Linked DNA regions of Homo sapiens. The protein of the gene in region 5 purifies or fractionates together with the protein of the main gene of each other region. This does not show direct contact. Each region holds a gene or a part of one and is shown on either strand. Other genes may lie near its edges. The genes, in order: LEMD2, SLC25A51, RHBDD1, ABCB10, KCNC4, HERC3 and PDZD8.

Region 1 (3,945 bases), on a different chromosome or scaffold from region 5:
ATAAATGTTTGGGAATGGGAGTTGAGGGATGTGGAAGGAAGATTATAAACTGGTTCTATTTCCAGTTGCCACATTCCCTTGCTTCCCTTAGGGGTTTCCTGCTAAGAGCCTTCATGTAACCAAATCACCTGCCCTGTGGGAGGCTCTACACAGCACTGACACTGCAAAGATGTGGGTTAAGTATAAACACGCATGAACGTGTGCCAGGCACTGTCCCAAGCACCTTAGCCAAACTACCTCTTCTAATCCTCACAGCAACTCTATTGAGGTTTACTGGCAAATAGGCTAACAATGTTAATTGAATATGATCACACATCTAATAGTTGTGAGTAGGGATTTGAAATCGAACTGTCTGGCTCCAAAGCCCACAACCTAAACCACCAGTGAGGCTGCAAGACCGTGTATCTCTGGAGTCTTCTCTCTCCCATGTCTCCTTGTAAAAATCCCATTACGCAGACACAGGCCCTCCGCAGAGAAGCCTCAACTGCCCATTCGAACCCAAGGGCATTTTGCTCCTCTGCCTCCACCATGGATGCTGCGTCTCCTCCAGGCTGGCGCTCCTTGGGGGCCAGTGTCTGTCCTAAGGCAGGGATCGCACCTACTTGGTGCTCAGTGTCGCCCAGTTAACAAGCCCGAAGTCGGGACAGGGTCTTGGAGCATGCCTGGAGTGTACTCTAAGACCCAAATAAAACCGGATCACACATCAGTCCCCAAGCCCAGAGAGGCAAATCATCCTGTCTCTCCATTCGTGGCAGTGGCTTCGTTCACCATTAAGCAATTCATCTATTAAATCAACGCTGACTTTACTGAACGCTTACCACCTGCCAGAGGCAGAGCTAGGGTTGGAGGACTCAGAGATTAATACCGCTTGATCTAACAAACAAAGGGAAGTGGGAGAGCGGAGAGAGAGAGAAAAACAAAACAAAACAAAACAAAACAAAAAATTTAATCCCCCTTGGACCTTCCCACCATGGCGGCTCTAAGAGCCACGTCAGACCGCCTCATCATGGCCGACCAAAGGCCAAGTGCAGACCTTCCCAACATGGCGACCGACCTTCCCATCATGGCGCGTGGCCCCGCCCGCTCCGCCGCGCCTGCGGGAGGGAGCAGTTCCGGGTGCGGTGCGCGCCAGGGGCGGGCGGGGGGCGGCGTCCTGGCCATGGCCGGCCTGTCGGACCTGGAACTGCGGCGGGAGCTGCAGGCCCTGGGCTTCCAGCCAGGACCCATCACCGACACCACCCGGGATGTCTACCGCAACAAGCTGCGCCGCCTGCGGGGCGAGGCCCGGCTGCGCGACGAGGAGCGGCTGCGGGAGGAGGCCCGGCCGCGGGGCGAGGAGCGGTTACGGGAAGAGGCCCGGTTACGCGAGGATGCGCCGCTGCGCGCCCGGCCCGCCGCGGCCTCTCCGCGGGCGGAGCCCTGGCTCTCCCAGCCGGCCTCGGGCTCGGCCTACGCGACCCCTGGGGCCTACGGTGATATCCGGCCCTCCGCGGCTTCCTGGGTAGGGAGCCGCGGCCTCGCCTATCCTGCCCGCCCGGCGCAACTCAGGCGCCGCGCCTCGGTCCGGGGCAGCTCCGAGGAGGACGAGGACGCCCGGACGCCCGACAGGGCCACGCAGGGCCCGGGTCTCGCGGCCCGCCGCTGGTGGGCAGCGTCTCCCGCCCCGGCGCGGCTGCCTTCCTCCCTCCTCGGTCCCGACCCGCGCCCGGGCCTGCGGGCGACTCGAGCGGGCCCTGCTGGCGCGGCGAGGGCCCGGCCTGAGGTGGGGCGCCGGCTGGAGCGCTGGCTCTCTCGGCTTCTGCTCTGGGCCAGCCTAGGGCTACTGCTCGTCTTCCTGGGCATCCTTTGGGTGAAGATGGGCAAGCCCTCAGCGCCGCAGGAGGCGGAGGACAACAGTACGTCCTGGGCCGGCGCAGGGGAGGGCCCTGGGCGCGCGTGTGTCCGCCGGAGGACCCCCCGTTCCTGTCGGCGCCAGGCCGCGCACTTCCGGCCTTGTCAGCTGCCTCTGACTGTCTTCTCATTTCCAGGCCTGCCTTCTTCCAGCTGTGGGAAGAGAGGGCCAAGGCTCCTGCATCTGCAATAATTTCTGCCTTCACTTTCTCCTGTTCTCCTTTTCTGCCCCAGCCCTCCCTTCTAACGTCTCCCTTTCAATCACAAGCTGTAGTCACTGCTCCTCCAACCTCTGGTTTTCTCCCTGGAGAGGAAGCCACACCCCCCTCTAACAGATTCACCCCATCCGTTTGGGTTCTTCCCTTTTGACCTCTGGCTTACACATTTAGTGCCTGTTTGAAGGCACTCCAGATTTCAGTGGCCCACAGATAGGATCTGGTTGGGGGTCCCACCTTTGTAGCACCAAAAAGTCCACTCTCCACTTCTTTGAATCACAGGGCCGCCGCTTTGTCAACAGGAGAATCTACCAGCCTTGCTTGCCAGACAGGTTAAACTGATCGCAACTGGAGGCCCTTATCATTGCTTGTAGCACCCTCATGGAGTGTGTTAAGAGAGAGACTACGACTCAAGGATGCTCACAGCCATCCTTCTGGCCACATTTAAGTTACATGGTTAGATATGCCAATGAGAGGTCTGCAGGATACAGTATGTATCCGGAATAGCTGAGGATTGTGTGTTTTCTGAAAGGAAACATAGAGATCATTTCATTATACATTTAGGTATAAAGGGCCACTGTAGTTCACCAACTTTTAATACTCTTTACAAAGCACGAATGTGACTAATACTGTTCCCAGCTTCCAGCCAAGGCCACATCCTTTCATGCCTAGCAGGAACTGCCAAAATACAGGAAAAAGCTAAAGTATGTCTTAGCTGGTGTGGCAGATGGATGTTTGGGAGTGTACAAGTCTGTGGGCAAGGGTATTAACAGACTCGTGTGCAAACACCCAAATGATTTCCCCACTATGAGAGCATTTATCAACTATGTGAATAGTTTGTCGACCTGCTAGAGAAATTAAGGAGACCTGGGAGTGTCATGGTACTATAACTACACTGGTGATGTCAAACAGTATCACACTGGTACTCACTGCTGAGATGCTTTAAGACAACAGCGCTAGAATGTATGCTGGTATTTACCTGGACTTCCCCTCCCATTACGGTGTTAATCTCTGTTTAACATATCATTGTTTACAAAACTCCTATATTTTGTTTTGTTTGGGCCTAACTCCCTGAGTTAAGCAGGGAAGGCCCATTTGATCCCGTTTTACAGACGAGGAGACAGAGGTTCAGAGTGGTTGAGTTGCCCAAGAAACTTGAGCTAATCATTTTCAGCTGGGACAAGGACCCAGCTATCGTAATTCCTAATCCAGGATTTGGATACCCTTACATTTTGCTGTCTGCATTTTAAAAGTGCCTTCCTTAGATGACATCTTTCTAATCCCCACCCTTGGCTTGGTAATGCTTTACTCCCTCCAAATGTTGTGAGTAGTCTCTTTTTGTATTCCTTTCTCAACCCACACTTAATTTCCTCTGTGTTTCTTTTCTTGGTCTCAGTGAAGTTATTGCCAGTGGACTGTGAGAGAAAAACAGATGAGGTGAGTTTGAGTTTCTCTGGTTTTTATTATTCTTCCTGAGGATATTAGCCTCCATCAGGAGGTAAACTTCCCCAGAAAAAGAATAGGATCATTTTCAGGGAGTGCTTCCTGTAATGTACCAGAGTCACATTGTGTTCTGTGATGTTCTTGTCAGGCTCAATTGTGGCAGTGAAGGAATACTTGAAATAGAATTGACCTCCCAAAATCCAACCCTGGGCTTGTTATGGACACTTTCCCATCAAATGTAGCATCGGGGACTTTGATCTGCCTGAGTCAATCTAGGGGGATGCAGTAGGTTGTTGTTGAAGGACCCTCAAGCTCCCTGGCACTGGGAGGAAGGGCCGGCGTTTCTAAGCATCAGGAGGCCAAGTTCTCAATTCCACATTCTCTGTCTCCAGTGGTG
Region 2 (3,500 bases), on a different chromosome or scaffold from region 5:
TTTATTATAATTTAATTTTGTTCAGGAAGTATTTATCAGTTCAATAAGAAGAAAGAATTACACATATTATAAAAGAGAAGGCAAAATTTTTTGCAAGTGATCTTTTACATGGTGGAAACTAAAACGTTCACCAAAAAACTGAGACATAGTAAGAATTCAGTAAGTTAGCTGGTTCTAACCTTAATACCCAAGAATTGTTAGTTGTTTTCTTATGCAAACGAAAACTAGTTAGAAAACTGATGGAAGTAAATAGCCTATGAATAATAATAATCAGGCAGGGCAAAGTGGCTCATGTCTGTAATCTCAGCACTTTGGGAGGCTGAGGCAGGAGGATCACTTGAGCCCAGAAGTTGAAGACCAGGCTGGGCAACATAGTGAAACCCCATCTCAAAAAGAAAAAAAATTTAAAAATTTAAAATATAATAGTAACCAAAAAGGTGAAATACATAGATGTAAGAAATAATATCTATGTGAAGAAAATTTTAATGCTTTAAGGTTTGCAAAAAGTTATAAGTAAATAGGAAGATACCAAGTTCTTGTAAAGTTAAGATTCAATTTTGAAAAGATGATCAGTATTTAAAATTAAGATAGACTTGTCATGTCCTGTCTGTCATTCCCTCTGGACAGCTAGTTAATGACCTCCTGCTGTACGGGGCCTTGATACCTTCTATGATTGCACTTATCTCCCTATAGTCTAATTAATTTGCACGTCTTATCTCCCCTGACATAGGTACCGGACATACATATGCTCTTTAATTTTCACTCTTTCCATCTAAATACCACTAAAAATTCAAAGTTAATACCGTTCTGAACCTTAAATATTTATTTATTGAGACAGAGCTTCGCACTTGTCACCCAGGCTGGAGTGCAGTGGTGCAATCTCGGCTCACTGCAACCTCCGCCTCCTGGGTTCAAGTGATTCTCCTGCCTCAGCCTTCAGAGTAGGTGGGACAACAGGTGCACACCACCACGCCTGGCTAATTTTTGTATTTTTAGTGGAGATGGAGTTTCGCCATGTTGGCCAGACTGGTCTCGAACTCCTGACTTCAAGTGATCCACCCACCTCGGCCTCCCAAAATACTGGGACTACCGGCGTGAGCCACTGTGCCCGGCCACCCAGCCTATTTTAAATATATATGCCTCATTCTGTGGATACATCTTCCACCATAAAACACCAACAGGATTTTGGGGAAGAGTACACCGAAGTTTACCTGAGAAAAGTGAGAGGGCTAGAAAAACTGTAATAATTATCTTTGGAGGGGGAAGCCCTACTAGATGATGAACTATATTTTGATGCTGCAATAGGTTAAAACAGGTTAGTACTAGAGAAGAAATACCAGGCTCTTTGTGGAAAAGAATGGAGTGCAGAAATAAACGCAAACGCCCGTGGGTATTTAGATTATGCTGCAACTGATGGAAACAAAGTTCAGTCATCAGTGATGTTGGCAGTCTGTTATCTTTGCCTCACTTCTTAAACTGATATTCCAGAGATATTACAGTATACGTGATAATTCACCATAAAAATTATGGAAGGGCCTGTAATCCGAGCACTTTGGGAAGCCGAGGCAGGCAGGTCACTTGAGGCCAGGAGTTTGAGACCAGCCTGGCCAATGTGGCAAAACCTTGTCTTTACTAAAAATATAAAAATTAGCAGGGCATGGCAGCACACACCTATCATCCCAGCTACTTGGGAGGCTGAGGCAGGAGAATCACTTGAACCAGGAAGGCAGAGGTTGCAGTGAGCCGAGATCATGCCTCTGCGCTCTATCCTAGATGATAGAGTGAGACTCTCTCAAAAAAAAAAAAAAAGTTGTGGAAGGAAGCCTGGATTACTTGTTAATAATTTTGGAGTAATGAAGACCTTAGGAGAACATGAAATCTAGAAGTTGAGATATATTTAATATTCAAATTAAGAACTTCAGTGTATAAAAATGATATAGACATGGAAAAATTATTTGCCACAATTTGACTAAAATAGATTCATTTGCTTCATATCTAAAAGATACTTTACAAATCAGTAAGACAACCAAAGTGCCAGCAGAAAAATGGGCAACATATATGAAAATGTATAGTAAAGAAGTGGTCAATAGAAATGAAAGATGGGGAATCATATTCAAAAATTTTAAATGGCAGGCAAGGTGGCTCACTCCTTACAATCCCAGCACTTTGGGAAGCTGAGGCATTAGGATCGCTTGAGGCTAGGGGTTGGAGACCAGCCTGGCTAACATAACAAGACCCCTTCTCTACAAAAAAAAAAAAAAAGCCGAATGTGGTGGTGGATACCTGTAGTTCCAGCTACTCAGGAGGCTGAGGCAGGAGGGTCATTTGAACCTAGGAGTTCGAGGTTACAGTAAACCATGACTGTGCCACTGCATCGTAGCCTGGGCAACAGAATGAGACCTTGTCTCAAAAAAAAAAAAGTTTTTAATGGCAAAACAATTCACATGGTATAAGTACAAGGTTGCCCATTGCTGCATTGTTTAAAGGCGAAATAGAAAAAAACAATACCCAAAGGAATAGTTCTACTATAAGGACACATGCACAGCCATGTTCACTGCAGCACTATTCACAGTAGCAAAGACATGGAATCAACCTAAATGCCCATCAGTAGTACACGGGATAAAGAAGACGTGGTACACATACACCATGGAATACTATGCAGGCATAAAAAGAGCAAGATTGTGCCCTTTGCTGGAACATGGATGGAGCTGGAAGCCATTATTCTTAGCATACTAACTCAGGAACAGAAAACCAAATACCACATGTTCTCACTTACAAGTGGAAGCTAAATGATGTGAACTCATGGACACATAGAGAGGAACAACACACACTGGGGCCCATAGGAGGGTGGAGGGTGGGAGGAGGGAGAGGATCAGGAAAGATAACTAATGGGTACTAGGCTTAATACCTGGGTGGCGAAATAATCTGTACAACAAACCCCATGGCACAAGTTTACATAACAAACCTGCACACGTACCTCAGAACTTAAAATTTTTTGTAAAAGGCCAGGCCAGTGGCTCATACCTGTAATCCCTGCACTTTGGGAGGCCAAGGCGGACAGATCACTTGAGCCCAGGAGTTCAAGACCAGCCTGGCCAACAAGTTGATAACCCATCTCTACAAAAATAGAAAAATTAGCCAGGCATGGTGGCGGGCACCTGTAATCCCAGCTACTCGGGAGGCTGAGGCAGGAGAATCAGTTGAACCCAGGAGGTGGAGGTTGCAGTGAGCCGAGATCGCACCACTGCATTCCAGCCTGGGCAACAAAGCAAGACTCTGCCTCAAAAAAAAAAAAAAAGTTAAAAAAAAAGGTGAGTGGGGGCAGGTTTAATTAGACCTTTCCTCTAGACACTCTCTGGAAGGTCTTGGAATTAAAAATGTATATCTTTTGTATACCCACTCACACACTTGGCAAGCTGAATTGTCCACAGAGTTTTCCAAACCTTAATAATACAAAACCATAAAAAAAAACAGCAACCATAAATAGGAGGTAGAATAAA
Region 3 (3,329 bases), on a different chromosome or scaffold from region 5:
TCTCTTCCCAAGCAGCAATACCTATTATGACCAAATTTAATGATTTCTATTATATTAGCAACATTTTAGTTTTTCTAAAGTATAAATCACATATCTAAATCTGCCAATTCATCTATCATCTGATCGAGATGTTAAGATCATTCTCTCTCTGCCCCTAAATACCACAGAAGGAAAAAATGTTAGCACAAACACATCCAACGCAGACCTGTAAAAAGCACATGGCAAGATTCGGTACTACTCACAGGGACTCCTTGGTGACACTTCTTGGTCGTGTGGGAATCTTGAGCTTTGTGTACCAGGTCACAGCATTCGATGCAGTGGGACATGTCTTCAGGCTGACAAAGGCCCTGAAGTCTCTATTTCTACCAGCAAATGCTTTCCATCATTCTTTCCTTGATGTGATTGATTCAAGGGAAAAAAAAAAGACCTACAATGATATCAATAAGCACCAGGCACTAGTGTTTATGTGCGCCACTGGTGACAGTATAAATGAGCTTCTCTTTTTGTTTCAATCCACAAGTATTTATTGGTTCTGACATTCCAGACAACGTACTGCTCAAGGCACTGTGAGGAGAGACAGAGAAACAGATGGTCCCTGCCCTCATGAAGCTTACAATTTAAAGACAAAGACATTCTCTCATTGCAGCATAACCAGCAATTCCAAGTGGTATGTGGAAACTGTGTAGATGTGGTTGTGTCTGTTACAGGATTCAGATGGGGGCTGGATGAGGAGGATCTGAATGGGCCAAGAGAGAGGAAAGAGCTGTTCCATGTAAAAGCACAGCACAGAATGTCACAAGATCAGGAACACTCACAGCCTGAGCAGTGAGACTAGTTACCAGCCTCTGTGATGGATAAATGGGGCTGAGGTCCAAAGGCTGGTTGAAGCCCACTGTTGAGGCTAATGACTTTGACCTTTATCCTTTGGCAGCAGAGAGCCAATGAAAGGTATTTGAGATGCTGAGTGGCATCATGAAAGTGAATTTTGGAAGACTAAGCTGGAGTTATGTAGAATTGAGTGAGGAGGTATTGTTAAGTATTGAACAGAGCAAATAATTGAGATACTGTGACTCTCTAAGCTGAGAGTCTGTGATTCTAAAATAAAATACTAGCAGCCATGAAAAAAAAAGAGAAGAAACTTAGGGAATGACTGCAATGATTCATGGGAAGGGAAAGGAAGAAGTTATATATATATTTTTTGACTAATTGAATGCTATTCTTTACTGAATACTGAATCTCTCAAGAAAAACTAAGACTGGGAACAAGGAGGCCAGGTCTGCCAGCTACCCCATTCTCGCCCTGCCTTGCAGTGCAATTTCCAGGGTAGGGGGAGGTGGTCTTTCTCATCCCTTTAGCTTGCTTACTCCCCAGGCAGCAGAACATGTGCCAAATAGATAGACAGGATCTAGTTCTACTCAAACTAGTTATTTACTGCAGCAGGCAATTTAAAAGGATGGAGGAGGTCTGAACAATTATGTACAACTTTGGAATCACAGGCAATACATTCAGAGTCATTAAGAGGAAGCAATTTTAACTACTGCCTCCTCTTCAGAACCAAGTAAAGATTCTGCATTAAAAGGTCGCTTAAGTTGACTGACCACACCAAACTGTGGGAACCAGGGGCTTAACAGACAATCAGGGAGCTACTAATAAATAAACCAAATTAAAAAATTAGCTCTAAGTGCTTATTCCCTACTAGAGATAATTAGTCTAATACACTTGCTCACTTGCTTTTGTCTTTCTCAATCCAATTCCAGTTTGTTGGCATAACTTTAGGGATTCCTTATTGTAGAGGAAAATAAAATAAAATGGACATTCCAAACATAAGCACTTGTTACAGGCAAGTCCATTAACTAAAATAATTATAATAATTTCCAGAACATCTTTATTGTTGTGCTAAAGTAATTGGTTTACATTTATAACTAAAATGACCTTTCTCACATCACTAAGATGTTCCACTCCATCAACAGCCATGCGTATCACAATTTTACCACCCAAAATCTAATCCCGTGTCTTTGTATCTGACAAGTCAAACAGAGCAAGGAAGTACTACTAGTGGACTCAAGTGATATAAAAAAATAAAAAATAAAATACTTCCATATACAGTGACTGGACTCTTAATACAATGGAAAAAATACTTTGGTGAAACACTGACATTTAGTGAGCCCCTATCGTGAGCCTTTGGGGTTGGAAAGGGGAGACGGGGAGTGAGTGGAAAGATAACTAAGACTCAGGCCTCATTACAGAGTCATTCACAATCCATGTTCCCACGTAGAAGGCACACCTTTGTGTAGCTGTGCACAGTTAATAATAGGGGCAAGATGTGTTATAGCAGAATTACCAAATGCTATAAAAGTGGCATGAAACAAAGAAGTTACTTCTAATTGGGGTAACGGGAGTCAAACTTACAGAATTTGGGAGAGAGCAGTAACATTTAGCTTGAATATTTTAATTTAAACACATTTAAAGCTTCTAGACTCACAGGTACAATTTATATTATAAAGAAGATGTAGTTTTATATCAGTTATAAATTAACCAAAGGAGCTCAGATATTACTGGGCCAGCCAGGAGGCCAAAGAGCTCCCAAGGCTCCAGTGGTTTTCTTAGCTCATTTCCATGCAGGTGTCAAGGCCTCTTCCAGGTAAATTCAGATTGGATTTGGACACAAAACTCCATGGTCAATGTGCTCCAAATTTGCTGAATGTATCAACGGAAAAATTGATAAGACAATACCACCAAAATGTTAACCCTGGGTACCTCTAAGGGTAGGGCTACAGGTGACTTTAAAATTGTGTATGTATTTATTTGTATTTCTGTTTATATTGTGAATTTTCTCAATGGACACATAGTATTTATTTTTAAGTCTGTTTTCTTGACTATATGTTATTAAATATGTTTTCCTGATTGTAAAAGTAACACACACACATAAACACATCTTCCAAGACAGTAATATAAAATTATAAAAATGAAGAAAGCAAAATCCCATGTACTCCACTCCCAAAGATAACCCCTGCTAAGATTTGGGTATATTTCTTTCCAGATGTTTGCCTTATGCATCTGGAAGGCATATCTATTATGTGCATAATCAGAAAACTATATAAGTTGTAGATCAAAAAAGGAAGATCTTTTCCTGCTTCTCTCTTTTAAAATATCTCTGTTGACAGTAAGACATCAGTGATCTTCTGACTTTGTCCTTTTATTCATGGAACACAAGCACCAGGAAATGCCTTAAACGACTCAGACAGACAATCTGTGGATTGTAACGTGGCGGGGCCCAAGGGCGTGTTTTGGACATTTGGCTAGGACAAGTGGCTGGTACAATGGCCAAT
Region 4 (3,500 bases), about 120 Mb from region 5:
GCTGAGCTGAAAAGGAATTCCAATGTTAATTTGTTAATTTTTAGAAAAATACAAAAATCTTTTTTCAAAAATGCAGCTTTATATTTTAATAATAATACCTCCATCTGTCTCAGCATTTTGCTGGGTATGCCTCCTAAACTGTGTGAACAGAAAACTTTGATTGCATCAGAAACTTTAAAAACACAGTCTACCATGAAATATGTACAGACGTGTGCTGAAAGCAGCTTTAGCATAACTGTGTTACATTCCTCTTCTAAAGGAAGGCCTAAGCCGCCCCTTTGGGGAGGAATTCGCAGCTGTCTTCATACAGATGTAAGGTCCCTTTTCACTGATAATTCTCCATCGTATCACTTTGGCCAGAAGGACTCTTAAAAGATGCAGGTGCTTGAGGAGGAGCAGGGTGTGGATTGATGGGATAAGCGACACTTCATCAGAACCGTCTGGCTGTGCCTGGCAGATAGATGAGGCTCTGACCTGAGTGAGTTAGGGGCAGGGTTTTAGGAGCAAATGTGGGCCCCTACAGTACTGTGAGATTAGGGCAAAGCTGCCTCCTGGAGGTTTTTTGTGTGGGGGGCTTCGGCGGGGTGGGCAGCATGCCTTCATTAAACTGTGGACTGCACACATGTATCCCCTCCGCTGGGGCATGTTCAGTTGGTGCCTGTGTGGAGGACTCAGGAGGGCTCCTCTCACTGCAGTTACTGATAAGGGGCTGGTGTGTGGTTTGAGGGCAGGACTGCTCTGAGAACCTGAAGCCTGCTGGCAGCTTTTGCTGAGTTTGTAGTTGCATTTTATGAAGATGGGCCGTGAGTGACCACAGTGAATATAGTGACAAAAGCAGTGGGTATGGTGGGCAAGGAGGCCAGAGTAGCTACTTCCTGAAGCCCAGTGAGGATGGAGATCCCGCAGGGACAGTGCCCTGTGGGGGCTGGGATGGATGAACCTTTGAAATCGGAACTGCCCCCGAAAGCCAGGGATGTGCGTGTGCTACAGAAATACATTGTTTCAGCGAAACTGAGCATTCTGTAGCTGTGCTGTCACATCAGATTCCAGAAGGACAGTAGAGAAAAAATGTAAAATATCTTACTAATTTTTTATGTTGATCATGTGTGGATAATATTTTGGATATATTGGGTCAAGTAAAATGTTATTAAAATTAATTTTACGTATTCCTTTTTATAATGTGGCAACTAGAGAAGTTTAAATTACCTAGGTGGCTCCCATCGTATGTCTGTTAGAGTCCATGGCGAACCCTCCTGTGGTTCATGGGACAGGTACCCCTAACTGTTTTATTTTAATTTTGTCTTTGGGATACTCCTAACTCTAGAGCATGCTAATAGCATGGACAGAGACAGTCTGATCTTGCACCAGACACATGGGGGCTCAGATCTTTCTTCTCCAGATTTCCAGAACCTGGAGTCCCTGGCTTCTTCCTCTACTCCCTTCTCATCTGTCAGCCGCTCATGTCCTCACTCATTCTCTACCCAGCGCAGATGCCGAGTCTCTTCACTCAGCCTCCATCTCCCCCACACCCTCAACTCCTGTGTTCTCCATCACACCCACCTGCATCCGTGGAAATGTGTCCCAGACTCCAGCAAACCAAACATGTCTAAAAACCAAAGTTACCTTTCTCCGCAAAGCATCTTTCCTCTTCTGTCTCTTGGTTCAGTGAGAGAGACTGCAGTGCGAACCTCTTGGCCTTGGCCAGAGACATGGGTTGTTCTTATAATGGTAGTAATAAAGATAATAGTTAATATTTCTTGTGTACTCAGCCCTGGGCATTGTACCAGATGCTTTGAATATGTGTGTAGTTTACTCATAATTCTGTGAGGGAGGGATTGTTTCTATTGCCATTTTACAAATGAGGAAACTGGGCACAGAGAGATGGAGTGACTTATGCAAGGTCAAACAGCTAGATGGCAGAGCTTAAAAGGAGAACTTAAGATAACGAATGCCTAACCTAGGAGGGCCGGTTCTGAGGTTGAGTTCGTCAGGGTTCCGACCCAATGCTGACCAACTCAACCTCAAAACGGCCCTCCTAGGTTAGGCATTCCTCATCCTAAATCCTCCCTTTAACCCTCATCTTATCCTCATTTTTCAGAGAGGAAAAATGCTCACATCCAACCAGTCATCACGTCCTAGTTCTTAAAAATATCTGTAGTCCTATACTCTGCCCTTTATCCCTCTGTCCCCAGCCTACTTCGCCCTAAGTTTGCTTCTCACCTAGGGCACTAGAACAGTGCTCTGTCCGCTGCTCCTTTCGCTCTGTAGCCAGAGTGGATCATTTAAAAATGCAAATCTGGCTGGGTGCGGTGGCTCACGCCTGTAATCCCAGTACTTTGGGAGGCTGAGGCGGGCGGATCACCTGAGGTCGGCAGTTCAAGACCAGCCTGACCAACATGGAGAAACCTCATCTCTACTAAAAATACAAAATTAGCCAGGCATAGTGGCGCATGCCTGTAATCCCAGCCACTCGGGAGGCTGAGGCGGGAGAATCGCTTGAACCTGGGAGGTGGAGGTTGCAGTGAGCTGAGATTGCGCCATTGCACTGGGCAACAAGAGGGAAACTCTATCTCAAAAAAAAAAAGCAAATCTGGCTGGATCATTCCCCAGTGTAAAGCCCTTTTAGGCCGACCTTGCCACAAAATCCTTCTGTTCTATAATCTAGAGGCTTCATTTCATTTCTCAGTTCTCCTTCCTGTGCACCCATGAGGTCTCTGCCCCTGCTCCATCCTGCCAGGCTTTCTGCTCCCTTCCCTGATTCCAAGGTGAGGCCTGTGCTTCCTCTTCCTCTGCTTGGGATGTGGGAAGATGCCAAAGACAGGCTTTGTCGCAGAATGTGGTTCTGTGATGTGTAAATTGGGAGACCTTGCGTAGGCTCCCTCTCTCTGTGTTCGAGATTCCTCTCTGAAAAACGAGGATAAGATGAGGGTGAAAGGGAGGATTTAAGATGATGGATGCCAGATCCTTCAGATAATGGTGAGGACTCTGAAGTGCTGCCTTTGAGTCCTTGAATGACAGTGGGGATTGCTGTACCTGCCTGATATAACCAGATGGGTGCCCTGTTCAGCAGTGGGCAGGTGGTAGGCACAGTGTACAGCTTCCTCCAACCACCCCCAACCTCTTCTATCCAGCGCTGTTGTCCAGCAATCTGCAATTCAGATTTTCCTTCCCCTTTCTTTTGAAGGATATTTGTTTCCATCTTTGCTGCAATTCAGTAGAATGAGGTAACAAAGATACTTGAAGGTATCTGTCAAGAAATAGATAATGGGAGAAGTTGCTGGGGCCGCATCAGGCAAGGGTGGGGGCAAGCAAGAGACTTAACTATGGAGAAAAGGTGTGGGAGAATTTCAGAATTGCAGTATGCTCAGTTGTGTCCAGGGCTTGTGGTGGAATCTGAAATGATGTTTATGGAGCAAGTCTAAAGTATTCATTAATATCAGAAGACAGTGATATGTAGTCAGATCTTGATTAACAAGAATCCAGTTAACTAAAAGCCAAAA
Region 5 (3,500 bases):
CCCTGGGCAGGCCCAGAGGTGCTGAGAGGTTGTAAGGGCAGACAGTCTACTCAGCCCTCCTGCTATCTGGGTTCTATCTCTCCCAGATGAAGCCAGAGAGCCAGGAGGGATGTGTGGGAGCCAGCTCCCCGAGGCATTAGGGCTCCAGCCTGGCAATGCTGCATCTTGTCGCCCAGGGACATCTGTGCCCACCGTAGGGGTGCCATGAGCCAGACCCAGCCCTGTGGGAGGGAAGAGAGGGAAGGAGGCGGTGGGTGCCGTGGAAACTTGGGCTCCTGACAACTTGAGGGCTGCCACAGAAATAGCGGCCTCGGTTCCCTGAACCAGAAAGGCAAGTCAGAGGAGAAAACAGTGGTGGCATCCCTGTGAACCTGCACACCCGGCTCGTTGTGTCCCTGTCAGAGCCCAGGCCCTCCATGCCAGGGAGTCCTCTCGCTGTTGGGGGAGGGGCCCTCGCATCTCCATCCTGTTCCACAGGCTTCCCCATCCCTGTCACTTCAAGGGCCTGCTCCCTCCTGAAGGGCAGTTGCATGGAGGCCCCCACATCCCCTCTTCTCACTTCTTATGGGTCAGGTCACTTCATTCTGAGAGCAAGTGGGAGGCAGGCCCCACAAACCACTGCAGGGTGGGGGTATCCCAGTGCCCACTCTGAACAGACCTTTCCAGAAGGACATTTCTGTGTCTGCCCAAGACTGAGGGAGGTGCCGAGATGGGGACACTCCGGGCACAGGCTTTACACAACACCCCCAACCCCATGCAATAATTTGCTCTGCCCAGTCCGCCTTTTGGGGAGCCTCAGATTTCCCAGCCTCTGCCCAGCCCCGACGCTGCCCTGCCATCCTATCTTTGCTGACCATGGAAGGAGCAGATCTGGACCTTACTTAGTCATTCTCTCCGCAAAATTGCATAATCTGACTCTAAAAATTGCCAGGCGCACGGCTCTGCTGTCAGGTCTAATTCCCATCAGGTGAAAGAGGAAACGTCTTGGCTGAGGCAACCTTGTTCCTCAGGCTGTGGAGGGCCCCCTTCCCGGGAGCGGCAGGAGCAGGTGGGGGCAAGATGGCTTCTGTCCCCACACTTCCCCTCAGCTGCCCCTGCGCAAGGTGTACCCCTGCTCACCCAGTGACTCACAAACCTGTTGTGCTCCTGGGCTCGTTAGGTAAATGAATACACTTAATTATAGAAATTAGATGAGTCTCCGGTTCTGGCAGGAATACAGAGCGCAGAGGCTGGGTGGGAATGGCAGGTGACTCAGAGGCAGGGCTGGGAGTTTGAGGGAGAGGGAGAGGGAAGAAGAACTGTCGCAGAAGCAGAGGAAGCAGCGTGGAGAGCGATGCTGCAGCTCGGGGCGCAGAAGGGACACCAGGTGCCGCCAGTGGGAGTCACCACTGAATCTGGGCAGAGGCTTCCTGAGGGAAGGGCCTCCCTCGCCTAGGCAGCCCGCCCACGGCCTGCACCAAGCCTGAAGCTACAACGCTAGGGACCCCTACCTGCGCCCCAAGCCAGGGATAGAAAACATCAGGCCTCTTCTCCCAGGGCAGCACTGCCCATAGGCACTGCTCTTCCAAGGAGTCAAACCACCTTTACACCAGCAGAGATGCCCGACATAACAGCCTTGTTCCTTGCTGGTCTGGGTGTGGGGTGGACAGACAGACAGACAGACAGGCTGTTCGGCTACTGGTTAAAGGCTATGAGGAATGGAAATACATTCACAGTGATTAAAGATATTAACATAGGCGTGGCTCCCCAACAAGGCTGACTGGCCCCAGGCGCTCTGTGCACACATAAACGCCTGGTGGCTGAGACTGGCCCTGGTGGGACCCCGAGAGGAAGGCAAGGCCGAAAGACAGGTCCGGGGTGTGCACCTACAGCCCAGGAAGAGGCCAATATGGGGAGAAGCTCTGGGATTGCTTTCCCCTTTGCTCTCCGGTTCCAGAGCTGAACCTTTTGGGAAGCTTGGAGCTATGGAGGGCAGGCTCGGGGGCCTAAGTTCTCCTCTGTCCTGACTGCTCCCCCCTGCTCCCTCCTGCTGCCCGCGTGGGCCCTGGGGAGTGAGCGCTGAGGGCATGGAAGGGTGCCTGTTTGTGCGCGTGTGCCCAGAGGGGAAGGTGCAGCTAAGGGGCAGAGTGACCAGGGGGTGGGCCGGTGAGGGGGTGGAAGGGGGTGAGCAGGAACTTTTTCAGAGGGTAGGGCAAGCTGTAACGCGATGCCAGTGGAGACAGCCCCAGGCTGGTTCCAGCTGCTCCAACTATGTTGTTTAGACTCCGGGACTTTCCACAGCCTTGGTGAAGAAAAGGCACATGGGTCAGTGGGCGCAGCTCCACAGGGTCCACGCTCCAGGAGACACTGCAGGGCGGGTGGCCCTGGGCTGGTGTGGAGGGGCCTGGCCCTCCTTGACTCTCCCTGGCCTCAGGTCTCCTGGGCTCCTGAGGACAGACTCCAGGGCCCCACACCCAGCTGACTTTTGTCCTGTCCTGCCCCCAGGTAAGCTTCCCACCAGCTCCTTGATAGCCCAGCTAGACAAAGACCCCACAGCCTCCAGCATCAGCCTTCTTGACTCTAAGAAGCCCTAATTAGCACCTGCCACCATCCTCCCAGGGAACTGACACTCTGATACATGGGCCTGTGTGGAGGAGGCCCAGACCCACTCACTCCTGGTCTTAAGCATAACCTGAGTGTGGAGAAGTGCGGCACGGTACGGCGTGGAGAAAGTTGCCGAGTGTGCATTGGGAGTTTGGCAATGTTAACTGCCACGCTTGCTTAGCAGGGCCTGTTTCCCAGCAACCCACCTGTTCCCTCTCGAAGGTCACTCTAATTGGCTGAGCTACATGCCTGTTGCCAAGAAGCAGTGTGGAGGCATCTTGAAAACAGAGCAGACAGGCCCCACAGGCACCCCAGGGATACTGGATGGTGAGATGCTGGCTCTCCTGCCCCGTGCACGTGCCGGTGAAACTCCTTCCCCAGGTGCAGTCCACTCCCAGTACCTCGTGGTCCCTCCTGACTGGTACCCTCACGGCCTCTTCCACACCTATTTCCACTGAGCCCCTCACAGCCCAGGGAGGAAAGCAGGGATGCGTGGCACTCAGCTCTGTGTGCTCGAGTCCTACACAGGGACCACTCGTTCTAGACTGTCTGCTTAGCACGGTCCAGCCAGAGCAAGGCTTTGGGCCTGAACAAGGACACAGTGGAAGCCACTGCCTGTTTGGGATGGTCGGCGGGAGAGAAGGCCAAATCCAGGCCCAAGGATAGGACACGGGGGTGAACAAAGGAACACAGGCGAGGGTAGAGGTCTGAGCACCCTCCATCTGCTGCCTTTTGCTGGGGTTGCTGGACCACTTCCTTCTAGGCACCAGATCACTATTCCCATTTCTGCCAGTCCACAGAACACATGCCCAACAAAGCTGGACACACACCTTTCAGGGGCTGGTTAGGCTCAGGGTGGCCTGGGGCTTCCATGGGGAGAGTGGTACTGAAAGGTCTGGGAAAGAAACTAGAAGGTG
Region 6 (3,500 bases), on a different chromosome or scaffold from region 5:
TTGCAGCGAATTTCATAATTGTGTATTTTGAAGGAAAATAAAAGATTCTGCTCTTCTAGGAGCAAGCAAGAGAGTGAATGAGGAAAAATGGGTGTAAGGACCTTGGAGATCAAAATGCCCAGCGATGCAGACCGTTGCTGAAACTAGACCTTTAAAGTCATGGACATCAGCAGCTACAAGATTTAGGGGTCCAACTGGAGTGTACTTTGAAGTGAAAGCTGTGCTAATGGCTGGCTTCTCTCCAATGTGTTGAACTTCTCTCCTGAAAGCTAGATGATTTTAGTTGCTTTTTTCTTTAGTTCCGGCAGAGCATTGTGATGACCTAGGCCGTATTTATAGTTAGGATTGATAGTTTATTTACAGATACACATCTTTTTTGTGGTTGCTATTTAATTCTCTTGGTGGGCAGTTTTTATTTGACCAATTGAAGATTCCATTACTGTAACTCAGTTGGAAGAATTTTTGAAGTTTTCTTGAACAATAGTCCTTTTTATTATCTTTTTTCATAAATTGTTTTTACTAGTCAGTCAGGGATGAGGCCATACTTCAGGCTGTTTACACAGGATTGTGCTTGGCCAAAGCACCCAGAACTCAGATGACTCTCAAGGACTGACTCGTGCCAGATAAACTACAAAAAAAGCTGATAGACCCAGGACGCCAAATTAATAATGAGAATTAGAAATCCTAATAAGACTGAGATGCTTTGGTTACCTGGTCACAGTATTCTATCCCTGTAGTAGAATCTGCCCTAGAAACCAAGTTATTTAAGGTTGCTTGCTAAGCAAGGCAATTGGTTGGGTGAATTTAGTGACAACTGTTATGGAATCTGATCCACCCATCCACTTTTAGGAAAGAATTACTTAGCGGGTCAGATAGCCAGGTTGACTGATCAGGGTCCCTGTTTTCTCTGGAGAGTGGTGCAGACACATTGGGAAGTCTGGCCTTTTGGTTATCTACTTTCTAAGCTCCTTACTATACAGCACAGCATAGTGTCTCTTTCTTTTCCTTTACTTCATCTTTTTTTTGTTAGTTTCACTTTCTTCATCTGTAAATTAGAGATAATGGCAGTACCTGTCTCATAGAAGATGAAATGAGCCAACATCTGTGAAGCACATAGAAAAGTACCAGACTCAGAGTAAGCTCAAATCAGGTCTTATCTGCTGTTATTATTAATAATGTCATTATTAATATTATCAGTCAGGAGTTTCTTTTTATTGCAAGTGAAAGAAACCTGATTCAAACAAGCATAAATAAATAAGCTTAAGTAAACAAAGAAGGGACTTGTTATACTCTGTATATAGTTAGGTTCTGTAAAGTCATGGTGAATACCATATTAGTGAATACAGAGCCATTGTTTCTGAGGAAATACAGGATTAGGTTCTTGTAGGCTGTGGTCAAGAGATTTTTATCAGCCAGCTGACGCATAACCTTTTTTTATGTGTGTTTCTGTCTAGACAGCCTATTTAATATATATTTCTTACTAATATACACAATATTTCTTGGTAATAAAACACTAGTTGAGAAGGGTTTAACATTTTCTTGACCCTGTGTAATGTGACAGTGTTTTTGGCTTTCAGCCTCACATCAGTGCTATCCACTGTGATTTTTATTTTTTATGGGTTGTCATCTCATGAATCCACAGATTTAATTGCTTTTCCATTGTATCTATAGCTTCATTATGTACTCTGGATATTACTTTAGCTCTCTCCAGGGGAGGCCTCACATACAGATCAGCAGATTTCCTGTTCCATATTTTGGATGTACCCGCTTGTTGATTCATTAACATTGAACTCACAGCCAACACTATAACTCATGCATGAAAGAAACTTACCTAATACACATTTTTTTCTCTGTAAGGCACATCACAACCTTCTTGCACCTAAGAACACTAGAAGGTAGGAGAGATAAGACAAATTTATGAAATACTAAAAACGAAAAAATCCATTAATGTGGATAATAGCAATTGAGCAAGTTGGGAAAAATAAATTATTTCTAGATTATGTGAGCTTGCTGGTCTATTAGTGTATCATTAGACCACCAACCACCACCACCACTACCCTGCCAGTTTTTCATTTTATTTCTACTTCCCTCTCCACAATATTTGTAGTTAATTCAAAGAATAACATTTAATCTTAATACTTTTTTAGTGTAGAGTCTAGACAAGGAATAAAAATCTTGGGAAGAAGCAGAACTTTCTGTGTAAGACAGCAAATTGAGATTCAGTTTTATATTTTATTTTGGGCCTTTTCATGCCTTTCCTGAAAGCCTCAAGAGTTCAAAGCATACCTCAGGATTACAATAAGGCAGTTTTAAAATTGGTATATACCAATTAAGGCCATTGAGTTAAATCCAAAGTACTGTAATTGTTGTCAAGAGAGGTTGAAAGTACGAGCTTCCTCTGTGTTGTAATCTTTAATTTGTAGCCATTTGGGCATGCTTTTATCTTGGGAGAAAAGAGTTTGTCATTTTAAAAGCTGACTTTGCATAGAAGAGCCAATTAGCTGTCTCCTTCATATGTTGACAGTTCTCTCCTGTAGATTGGCTGATATATTCAGCTTTGATGTGTTCGCCTAGTATTATAATTCAAAGTAAGTCTTCACCATTTCTGTTAGAATCCATCCTCTTTTCATTAGGATGAAATGAATGTACCAATGAAAAGATTAGGGAAGACACCTTTGAAGTCTGCAATCTTGTCTTGAAATCCTGATATTTTGACCTGTAGGACCTAGAACAGTGATTCTTAATATGGAGAGACTAGCATGTTTAAGAAGTATGATTAGAAAAGGATATTCAGGGGCCGGGCGCGGTGGCTTACGCCTGTAATCCCAGCACTTTGGGAGGCCGAGGCGGGCGGATCACGAGGTCAGGAGATCGAGACCATCCCGGCTAAAACGGTGAAACCCCGTCTCTACTAAAAATACAAAAAATTAGCCGGGCGTAGTGGCGGGCGCCTGTAGTCCCAGCTACTTGGGAGGCTGAGGCAGGAGAATGGCGTGAACCCGGGAGGCGGAGCTTGCAGTGAGCCGAGATCCCGCCACTGCACTCCAGCCTGGGCGACAGAGCGAGACTCCGTCTCAAAAAAAAAAAAAAAAAAGAAAAGGATATTCAGAATTATAATTAAAATGTATATTTGGAAACCGGCTGGGCTCCGTGGCTCACACCTGTGATCCAAGCACTTTGGGAGGCCAAGGCGGGCTAATTACTTGAGGTCAGGAGTTCAAGACCAGCCTGCCCAACATGGCGAAACCCTGTCTCTACTAAAATACCAAAAAAATAGTGGGGTGTGGTGGCACACGCCTGTAATCCCAGCTACTTGAGAGACTGAGGCAGGAGAATTACTTGAACCTGTGAGGCGTAGGTTGCAGTGAGCTGAGATTGCGCCACTGCACTCCAGCCTGGGAGACAGAGCGAGACTTGGTCTCCAAAAAAAAAAAAAAAAAAAAAAAAGTATGTTTGGAAACTGAAATGTAATCTGAATGTCCTTAAGACCAATCTTCTGC
Region 7 (3,500 bases), on a different chromosome or scaffold from region 5:
CTGATTTGTAATTGAGCGCCATAAACACTAATTGAATCCTTGTCAACAGCTGGGATGTAGCACTCTGCCTGTTTTTTTTTTTTAAATCAGTTGTTTGAATGAGGACACATAGCATGATGATGTTGTTGTTAATTCACAGATGATGTTAATCTAGTATCCACATTCCTGAAAATTGGATGGCAGGTTTATTTAGAAAACAAAATGATCTTGATGGGTTAGAATAGGACATCTCATTAACAATGTAACTTTTTTTTTTTAAATAAAGATGGGGTCTCACCATGTTGCCCAGGTTGGTCTTGAACTCCTGGGCTCAAATGGTCCTCCCACCTCAGCCCTCCTTAGTAGCTGCGATTACAGGTGTGCACCACCATCCCCATCATCCCCACCACATGATAACTCTTTTTTTTTTTCTGAGGTGGAGTCTCGCTTTGTTGCCCGGGCTGGAGTGCAGTGGTGTGATCTCAGCTCACTTCAACCTCTGCCTCCCGGGTTCATGCCATTCTCCTGCCTCAGGCTCCCGAGTAGCTGGGACTACAGGCACTGCCACCACGCCTGGCTAATTTTTTGTATTTTTAGTAGAGACGGGGTTTCACCGTGTTAGCCAGGATTGTCTTAATCTCCTGACCTCCTGATCCGCCCACCTCGGCCTCCCAAGTGCTGGGATTACAGGCGTGAACCACTGTGCCCGGCCGATAACTCTTAATAAAGTATAAATGTAAACTCTTTTCCTTTGCCTATTCCCAAAAAAGAAACTTGAAGAATACACTGGCCGGGTGGGATGGCTCACGCCTTTAATCCTAGCACTTTGGGAGGCTGAGGTGGGCGGATCACTTGAGCCCAGAAGTTTGAGACCAGCCTGGGCAACAGTGGTGAAACCCGATCTCTACACAAAAAAATACAAAAACTTGCCAGGCGTAGTGGTGCACGCCTGTAGTCCCAGCTGCTTGGGAGGCTGAGGTGAGAGAATCACTTGCGCCTGGGAGGTGGAGGTTGCAGTGAGCCAGGATTGTGCCACTGCATTCCAGCCTAGGTGACAGAGTGAGACCCTGTCTCAAAAAAAAAAAAAAAAAAAAAAAGGATACACCATACAAAATGGAGTTTCCAAAGCACATATTATGAATGACATAGATCATTTTCATTATATTTGAAAAAAGCAAGATTCAGAATTATATTCATGATTATAATTGTATTGACTACTATGTCTCAGTATTATTGAGACAAATCTCAATTTTGTGTTAAATATATATTAGAAAATATATAGAATAGTTCTAGATTGTATAATTAGGAATGGTTTTCTTTTTATTTTGCCTTTCTGTTTATTTCCCAATTTTCTACAATGAGCATGGAGCAAGGAGTAATAATAAAACACATTGAAGATAAAGTGTTTAATTTTTTTGATGATTTAAATGTGTAGCCTAAGGATAGTTAATTTATATTGTTACAGTAAAGATTTTCTCCTTCCTTTATTTGCCATGATAGAAAAGTCAGCATCAGCCATGGTGCTCTCTGCACATAACAGTCTGTTACTGTTTTTTTCCTCTATTACTAGGAATCCATTGAATCAGTTTTCATTTTTTTCCCCTTTATCAAAGGTTGAATTAATAAAAGGAAATTTACAAAGTGTTGGACTTACACTTCGTCTTGTCCAGTCAACTGATGGGTATGCTGGGCACGTCATCATTGAAACTGTGGCTCCAAACTCGCCTGCTGCAATTGCAGATCTTCAGCGGGGAGATCGACTTATCGCCATTGGAGGTAATTATGCTAATATGCATTATACTTTACCTTTACAGATAAACTACAAAGTAGGTGTGAGGTTTTTCCTTTCTTCCTTTTTCCTTATTTCTATAATATGCATATGTCACTTTTATAATGGAAATAAAGTAATAAACTTTATTATAAATAAAAATTCAAAGGAGGCCTTCAAAATACATTTAAAACATACATGCCATTTTAGTTCTAGTGTATAAATCTTTAAAATACTTTGTTTAGACCACTTTTATATAACCACTCTAATCCTTCCCTTCCCACCTTCTACTACTCTATTTATTTTTTCTTGAATGTGAAAGTAAGGGCAAATAAACAGGTTATCTTTCTGTACGACTACCACCATTGCTACTCTGAACCTAAAATTGGTAGTATTAGCACTACTGCCCCCATCACTTAGCACTAGATGATGAGCAGAAGAACCAACATTCCTTTTCCAGGAGGGCACATCTGAACTGTCCTGTGATCCTGTGTCATCTAAATGGCCAGCCATTTGTTAGTATGTTGTTGCTCAGAATTCAGCCCAAATCACTGGTGGAAAAATGTGTCACTTACATGCCTTCCTATCACTTGGATTGTTAACAGTAAAAACTCTCTGAAGATAGCAGGTTATTTGCTTGTATATAAATGTCTAAGCAGTAGGACTCACTGTGCACAGCAGTGAGGGGAAAGTCCAAGCCTTTTCAACCTTTGTAGTACCTGTCCCATCTATTCTAGGCTTGTTGAGAGATTTCTTGAACATATGGTTGGTCACAGTTGATCTGAAAAGGGCAATGTGATATTTTCTTTCACAGCTTAGACAATAAATAAGTTAGAACAGTTCCCAAATCAAGGTGCAGTTGTCCTTGGTTACATGTCAAAGAAACTCTGCCTTTGATTCAAATCCACCTTGACAATAAAATAATGAAAATTATTTAGTTGCATATCTGGGAGCCCAATTAAGTCAATATTTTCACATGGGAATCTCTGATCATGGCATAAGCAGTGCTTCTCAGACTTTCCCATGTATGCCAGTCACCCAGACCTGATGTTAAAATGTGCATTCTGAATCAGGAGACCTGTAGTGAGGCCCAAGATTCTTCATTTCTCACAGACTCCTCCCAAATGATGATGCTTATGCATAAACACTTAGGGAGGCATAAAATAGACATCATTCATTATATTAATATCATTTAATATTTTGGTTTTAGCTACAGGATAAAATTAATTTTTTCGGTCTTTTTTGGGGGTTGTGTTTCAATTACACAAGTAGTAAATACCTATTATCAAAAATAAATTAATTAACCTAAGCGATATAAATGTATACAGAGTGAAAAAGCAAAAGTCATCCCTTGACATCTAACATTTGTTAATTACAATAACAACAGGCCGGGCTCAGTGGCTCATGCCTGTAATCCCAGCACTTTGGGAGGCCGAGGCGGGTGGATCACCTGAGGTCAGGAGTTCGAGACCAGCCTGGCCAACATGGTGAAACCCATCTCTACTGAAAATATGAAAATTAGCTGGGCATGGTGGCAGGCGCCTGTAATCCCAGCTACTCAGGAGGCTGAGGCAGGAGAATTGCTTGAACCTGGGAGGCAGAGGTTGCAGTGAGCTGAGATCATACCATTGCACTCCAGCCTGGGCAACAAGAGCGAAACTCCATCTCAAATAATAATAATAATATGTATTAAGATGAAGGGCAGATACAATACACATTCATTGTTTTAAAAAAAAGAAAAACCTTGGAACAT

What was found.
Region 1: the proteins of KCNC4 (region 5) and LEMD2 purify together in Homo sapiens (affinity purification with mass spectrometry; one large-scale study listed by BioGRID and IntAct). This does not show direct contact.
Region 2: the proteins of KCNC4 (region 5) and SLC25A51 purify together in Homo sapiens (affinity purification with mass spectrometry; 2 studies listed by BioGRID and IntAct, with this or other methods). This does not show direct contact.
Region 3: the proteins of KCNC4 (region 5) and RHBDD1 purify together in Homo sapiens (affinity purification with mass spectrometry; 2 studies listed by BioGRID and IntAct, with this or other methods). This does not show direct contact.
Region 4: the proteins of KCNC4 (region 5) and ABCB10 purify together in Homo sapiens (affinity purification with mass spectrometry; 2 studies listed by BioGRID and IntAct, with this or other methods). This does not show direct contact.
Region 6: the proteins of KCNC4 (region 5) and HERC3 purify together in Homo sapiens (affinity purification with mass spectrometry; 2 studies listed by BioGRID and IntAct, with this or other methods). This does not show direct contact.
Region 7: the proteins of KCNC4 (region 5) and PDZD8 purify together in Homo sapiens (affinity purification with mass spectrometry; 2 studies listed by BioGRID and IntAct, with this or other methods). This does not show direct contact.

The regions. Positions count from the first base shown.
Region 1 is NC_000006.12:33,786,331-33,790,275, reverse strand, and holds the start of LEMD2 (LEM domain-containing protein 2), read left to right. Parts: upstream 1-1,145; 5' UTR 1,146-1,159; coding exon 1,160-1,895; intron 1,896-3,333; exon of another isoform or gene 3,334-3,501; coding exon 3,502-3,542; intron 3,543-3,945. UniProt on the Homo sapiens protein: Nuclear lamina-associated inner nuclear membrane protein that is involved in nuclear structure organization, maintenance of nuclear envelope (NE) integrity and NE reformation after mitosis.
Region 2 is NC_000009.12:37,894,128-37,897,627, reverse strand, and holds part of SLC25A51 (mitochondrial nicotinamide adenine dinucleotide transporter SLC25A51), read left to right. Parts: intron 1-3,500. UniProt on the Homo sapiens protein: Mitochondrial membrane carrier protein that mediates the import of NAD(+) into mitochondria. Mitochondrial NAD(+) is required for glycolysis and mitochondrial respiration.
Region 3 is NC_000002.12:226,996,382-226,999,710, reverse strand, and holds the end of RHBDD1 (rhomboid-related protein 4), read right to left. Parts: 3' UTR 501-3,329; downstream 1-500. UniProt on the Homo sapiens protein: Intramembrane-cleaving serine protease that cleaves single transmembrane or multi-pass membrane proteins in the hydrophobic plane of the membrane, luminal loops and juxtamembrane regions.
Region 4 is NC_000001.11:229,552,208-229,555,707, reverse strand, and holds part of ABCB10 (ATP-binding cassette sub-family B member 10, mitochondrial), read left to right. Parts: intron 1-3,500.
Region 5 is NC_000001.11:110,227,314-110,230,813, reverse strand, and holds part of KCNC4 (voltage-gated potassium channel KCNC4), read right to left. Parts: intron 2,282-3,500; coding exon of another isoform or gene 2,115-2,281; exon of another isoform or gene 2,016-2,114; intron 1-2,015. UniProt on the Homo sapiens protein: Voltage-gated potassium channel that opens in response to the voltage difference across the membrane, forming a potassium-selective channel through which potassium ions pass in accordance with their electrochemical gradient.
Region 6 is NC_000004.12:88,598,980-88,602,479, forward strand, and holds part of HERC3 (probable E3 ubiquitin-protein ligase HERC3), read left to right. Parts: intron 1-3,500. UniProt on the Homo sapiens protein: E3 ubiquitin-protein ligase which accepts ubiquitin from an E2 ubiquitin-conjugating enzyme in the form of a thioester and then directly transfers the ubiquitin to targeted substrates.
Region 7 is NC_000010.11:117,288,441-117,291,940, reverse strand, and holds part of PDZD8 (PDZ domain-containing protein 8), read left to right. Parts: intron 1-1,592; coding exon 1,593-1,755; intron 1,756-3,500. UniProt on the Homo sapiens protein: Molecular tethering protein that connects endoplasmic reticulum and mitochondria membranes. PDZD8-dependent endoplasmic reticulum-mitochondria membrane tethering is essential for endoplasmic reticulum-mitochondria Ca(2+) transfer.